Regions from separate parts of the Homo sapiens genome. Here region 1 is linked to region 2. The links come from fine-mapping of genetic effects on gene expression. Tissue or cell type: tibial nerve. Region 2 holds a variant in brackets; the other region holds the start of a gene. All regions are shown on one strand. Distances are from middle to middle.

Region 1 (2,803 bases), 34 kb before region 2:
AACACACACGGCTTTCGCGAGGGAGGGAAACGCGACCCGGGAAAAGTGCGCTCCTCACCAGCCTCGGGACGCTCTACCGGGGTGGGGGTTCCCAGAAAGGAGGGGGAGAGGAGCCCGAGTAGGGGAATCCTGCCCTCTCAAGTAAAAAGCTGGATCCCCGGCAGCAGGCTGCAGCCCGTCCTCGCTAAGGAAACGACGAGGCAGACAGAGGGCCTTTTGCGCGGAAAGGCAGAAGGCAGACACTTTCCGAGGTCCGGACGCAAGCCGATCCCCCATCCCCCGAGGGAGGCGAAGGGTGCCCCATGGGTGGCTGAGGGGACGCCCGGCCCGCGAGGGACAACCCGAGGAGGAGCAGTTTCATCTGATTAACACCTGAGTCTCGTCCAGGCAAGCACAGATACTGGCGTGGGGCCGCCCAGGTGGGGGGAAGGGAAGGAGAGGAAGGGGGTGGAGATGGGATTCCCCCCTCTCTCTGAAGAGCACTAGCGGAGGATGCGCCCAGGCCAGCCGAGAGCGGCATGCTTCAGACTGCGGAGCCGGGATCCCGCCGCCTGCACCGACAGCGCGGAGCCCCGCAGCGCCCTCCGCACCGGCCCCTCGGTCCCCGGGGGCCCAGGACTTTGCTTCCGAAGGCGCTGGGGCCTAACATCCCACGGGGTCGACCCCGGCTCCTGGGGCCTGGGGGAGGGGACCCGCGGGAACACCCCCAATCTCCGGCGGTTCTCAGCGGTTGTAAAATGCACCCCCGCGGTTCCCTTCTTCAGCCTTCCCTCCTCCCGAGGCCGCAGAGAAGGGCCACCACAGGCGAAAAGCCTAAGGCAATGCAGGGACAGCAGCCTCATAGGTCCCAGACCTCCTCCCCCGGTTACCTGTAAGGACTCCGACACGGATTTGATGGTCGTGGTTAGTAAGGATCATTCCCTCGGTCGCCATGTTTCCCAGCGCAGTCACCGCACTGACAGGAGCCGGGAGAAACCGGAGCCCGGAGCGCGCGGGCCGGGAGCGCGCTCGCCGAGGAGAGCGCGACAGCTAGGGAGCCAGAGAAGCGCGAGGAGAGCGGGGAAGGAGGGGGAGGCCACAGAGTGCACGGTGGCCTGCGTGGGGGAGAGGCCGCGCCGGGAGTGCGCGGGTCCGCGGGAGGGGAAGGAGTCAGGGCGCGCGGCCCCAAGTCCGGCAAGAAGGAGGCAAGCTTGGGGGGCGCGGTGGCCGCACGGGGAGAGCGCGCGGAGGCGGCAGAACGAGGCCGGAGAGTGTCGGAACGCTCTGCGGAGCGCGAGACCCAAGGCAGCTAGATGGCAGGACTGAGAGGAAAGGATAGCACACGCTCTGGAGGTTGCGGGGGCGGACTCGGGGACAAGGGCGGAGCTACACCCCTAGGCGTGGAACTCGTGGAGAGTGAGGGGAGGAGTGAGAGCTCGGGTGCTGAGTATTGGGAGCGGGAAGGAGCCGGCCCAGCCTGAGTAGGACCGCGGATCGCTCCTGGGCGCGCGAGTAGCACCGGATTGGCTGAGTGAACGCGGAGCGTGTGCGCGCGAGGCACGAACGCAACCTCGGCCGGGCCCCAGACAGAAGCAATCCCCTGCCGAGCCTGACACCTCGTTGGTTGTCCGCGCCTTAGGCTGGCTCTCGCCGGCGGGCCGGCTTTCTACGCGGGGGCAGCGAGGCTGGCTCAGCACCCCGGGCCTCCTCTTGCAACCCTCGGGAATGGCCGGCCGCCCCACTGAAAGCGCTGGGGAACCGAGAGGTGTCTTAGAAAGCTGCATGAGTGGCAGAACGGTGGCTACTATGACAGAGAGGCCGCCGTGGGCGAAGAGGGAGGTATCCTGTCCTGCCTCGTGCTAGCCGCTGGCTTCCTCAGTGGGCTCTCCCTGAAGGAGGATTTCCGCTTCACCTATGCTTTAGGATTCCATCTCCAGTCAGTGCCTGCAAGACGATCCTCACGTGCGAAACTGAGGAGTCTGAGGCAGGGCAGCTGGAGTGGAGATACCTGGCTTCTCTTCCTCCTGCTGTCCCACGGTTTTGTGGCCTTAAGCCTCTTCGCCATGAGCGCTGCTTTTAGATGAAAAGCATCAATCTCCTTAGCGAACGAGAACGTGTTCCACCTGAACCACAGTCCATTGCCGCGGCGATTTTCATTTCAGTATTCGTGGGATGTGAGATTACCATGAAAGTAGCTTTTGTTGCCATTTATTTCCATGTGCCTTTCATGAAACGTGTTATTAATCACCTGTGGCTATTCTACGTTAGTTTCTTACTATCGTTCTGGACCTTTCAACTTCTGAATTTTAAAAAGTTATATGCGTGTGTGTGTGTGTACACACACTCATATGTATATGTTTTCTCTTCTTAGCTGTAGTAACCTGGAGGCATAAAAGTGAAAAGCAAAGTATTAAAAGATGTATATCAGTGTTTATACACAAATTTCAAAGTCACTTTGATAGGTTTTTTTTTGGTTTTGGTTTTGGTTTTTTTTGATCCGGAGTCTCGCTCTGTCGCCAGGCTCCAGTGCAGTGGCGCGATCTCGGCTCACTTGCAACCTCTGCCTCCCAGGTTCAAGCGATTCTCCTGCGTCAGCCTCCCGAGTAGCTGGAACTACAGGCGCGTGCCACGACACCCAGCTAATTTTTGTATTATTAGTAGAGACGGGGTTTCACCATGTTGGCCAGGATAGTCTCGATCAAGATCTTGACCTCGTGACCCGCCCGCCTTGGCCTCCCAAAGTGCTGGGATTACAGGTGTGAGCCACCGTGCCTGGCCGATTATGAGTTTTTTATTGTTCCGTTGGAACATGAAATTACCCATC
Region 2 (2,803 bases):
CAAGTTTTTTATAATGAACATATATAAGCTTTTTAAGTTAAAAATAACTATTTTCTTTTTTCTTAATTATACTTTAAGTTCTAGGGTACATGTGCACAAGGTGCCGGTTTGTTACATATGTATACATGTGCCATGTTGGTGTGCTGCATCCATTAACTCGTCATTTACATTAGGTGTATCTCCTAATGCTATCCCCTCCCCCCTCCCCCCACCCCACAACAGGCCCCCATGTGTGATGTTCCCGTTCCTGTGTCCATGTGTTCTCATTGTTCAATTCCCACCTATGAGTGAGAACATGTGGTGTTTGGTTTTTTGTCCTTGTGATAGTTTGCTGAGAATGATGATTTCCAGCTTCATCCATGTCCCTACAAAGGACATGAACTCATCATTTTTTATGACTGCATAGTATTCCATGGTGTATATGTGCCACATTTTCTTAATCCAGTCTATCGTTGTTGGACATTTGGGTTGGTTCCAACTCTTTGCTATTGTGAATATTGCCGCAATAAACATACGTATGCATGTGTCTTTATAGCAGCATGATTTATACTCCTTTGGGTATATCCCCAGTAACGGGATGGCTGGGTCACATGGTATTTCTAGTTCTAAATCCCTGAGGAATCGCCACACTGGCTTCCACAATGGTTGAACTAGTTTACAGTCCCACCAACAGTGTAAAAGTGTTCCTATTTCTCCACATCCTCTCCAGCACCTGTTGTTTCCTGACTTTTTAATGATCACCATTCTAACTGGTGTGAGATGGTATCTCATTGTGGTTTTGATTTGCATTTTTCCGATGGCCAGTGATGATGAGCATTTTTTGATGTGTCTTTTGGCTGCATAACTGTCTTCTTTTGAGAAGTGTCTGTTCATATCCTTTGCCCACTTGTTGATGGGGTTGTTTGTTTTTTTCTTGTAAATTTGTTTGAGTTCTTTGTAGATTCTGGATATTAGCCCTTTGTCAGATGAGTAGATTGCAAAAACTTTCTCCCATTCTGTAGGTTGCCTGTTCACTCTGATGGTAGTTTCTTTTGCTG[T/C]GCAGAAGCTCTTTAGTTTAATTAGATCCCATTTGTCAATTTTGGCTTTTGTTGCCATTGCTTTTGGTGTTTTAGACATGAAGTCCTTGCCCATGCTTATGTCCTGAATGGTATTGCCTAGGTTTTCTTCTAGGGTTTTTATGGTTTTAGGTCTAACATGTAAGTCTTTAATCCATCTTGAATTAATTTTTGTATAAGGTGTAAGGAAGGGATCCAGTTTTAGCTTTCTCCATATGGCTAGCCAGTTTTCCCAGCACCATTTATTAAATAGGGAATCCTTTCCCCATTTCTTGTTTTTGTCAGGTTTGTCAAAGATCAGATAGTTGTAGATGTGTGCTATTATTTCTGAGGGCTCTGTCCTGTACCATTGGTCTATATCTCTGTTTTGGTATGAGTACCATGCTGTTTTGGTTACTGTGTCCTTGTAGTATAGTTTGAAGTCAGGTAGCGTGATGCCTCCAGCTTTGTTCTTTTGGCTTAGGATTGACTTGGCAATGCGGGCTCTTTTTTGGTTCCATATGAACTTTAAAGTAGTTTTTTCCAATTCTGTGAAGAAAGACATTGGTAGCTTGATGGAGATGGCATTGAATCTATAAATTACCTTGGGCAGTGTGACCATTTTCATGATATTCATTCTTCCTACCCATGAGCATGGAATGTTCTTCCATTTGTTTGTATCCTCTTTTATTTCATACTGTACTACAAACGTAGACCATATACCTGCAGCCATTGGATCTTCAACAAACCTTCTTGCTTTGAAGGGCAGATGGGGTCCTGGGTCAAAACTGAGTGAGTGTTCCAAGGTGAATGGAATGATTTCCAAGCTAAGTGTAATTCCAAGGTGGGTGGAATGATTTGGGAAAGGTGCTAATGCTTCTTTGTATTTGTAATACCTACTAGAGTGCTTGGCATTTGTAGATAATTAAATTTGTTTGTTAAAAGCATGTGTGATTATCTGAGGATATTAGGAGTGAGAATGCAAGCCAGGTGTTTTGCATGTTTTGCATGTTAAAGCAGTTTCTGGGGTTTATAATATGGTTTGATTATCCTGGCTGAATGAAAACGTAAGAGAAAATGTGATTCAGAATATAAATTACTCAGTTCTTTCTTATCCCCCGTGGCAAGGCATATCCCCCAAGTTTGCTGATTTGGAAAATCCTTATTTTTGCAAGGACTGAATTCCCTTGCTTGCTATTTATCAGCATTCTGCTGACAACTGTTGTTCCTTCTCTGTTCTTAGCCCCTTTTTTGTTTTTCTTGTTAAAATATCTATTTAAAAAGTCAGTTCAGTAGCCCAACTATTTCAAAATCTCATTTCATCTCATTTGTCATTTATTACTAGGCCTATTTTCTCTTCAGTGTTTCTTATCCCCCAGATACATTTGAGGAAACTCTTTTAAATCCCTGGAACGATTGCATCACTAGTTCATTTTACTGAAAAAAAATTGACTCAAACTTTGATCCCTATATATTACTCCTACTTTTCAATTTCAAGTATTTTTTTCTTATAAATCTAGAACTTTGAAAAGTCCCTAGTGAGTCTAGTCTGAATAAAACACACAGTTTTGAGAAATTTATCAGATGAATTATAACGTATTACTATTTACCTCTAGGTTATTTGAGGATAGTCTGGTCTTTTTTTAATCTAACAGTTTTCCATACCTTCTATCATTAGGGTTCACAAAGATGCAGCTTGTTTTGTAGATATTTCATATTTTTCCCTAATTTTGACTTGCTTTTGGTTTCTTAATTTTTAAAAATAGGCT

Which allele goes with the higher level. Positions count from the first base shown, and alleles are read on the strand shown. Sizes are in standard deviations (SD) of each study's normalised expression.
With allele C in place of T in region 2, the expression in tibial nerve of the gene that starts at base 1,314 in region 1 is lower (small effect, 0.22 SD a copy in GTEx).

What was found.
Region 1: it holds the start of GPHN, and the variant in region 2 is fine-mapped to the expression of GPHN in tibial nerve (GTEx, PIP above 0.99).

Annotation. Positions count from the first base shown.
Region 1 is chr14:66,506,658-66,509,460 of GRCh38, reverse strand. It overlaps GPHN (gephyrin), which reads right to left and starts at 1,314. Exons shown (of 23, transcript NM_020806.5): 1 at 870-1,314. The coding sequence starts at 933. RefSeq lists enhancers at 30-79, 330-489 and silencers at 580-729, 1,080-1,269.
Region 2 is chr14:66,472,831-66,475,633 of GRCh38, reverse strand. No RefSeq gene overlaps it. Among named protein-coding and RNA genes, the nearest start is that of CCDC196, 12 kb to the left of the region's middle. The variant T/C (reference allele first, on the strand shown) is at 1,038.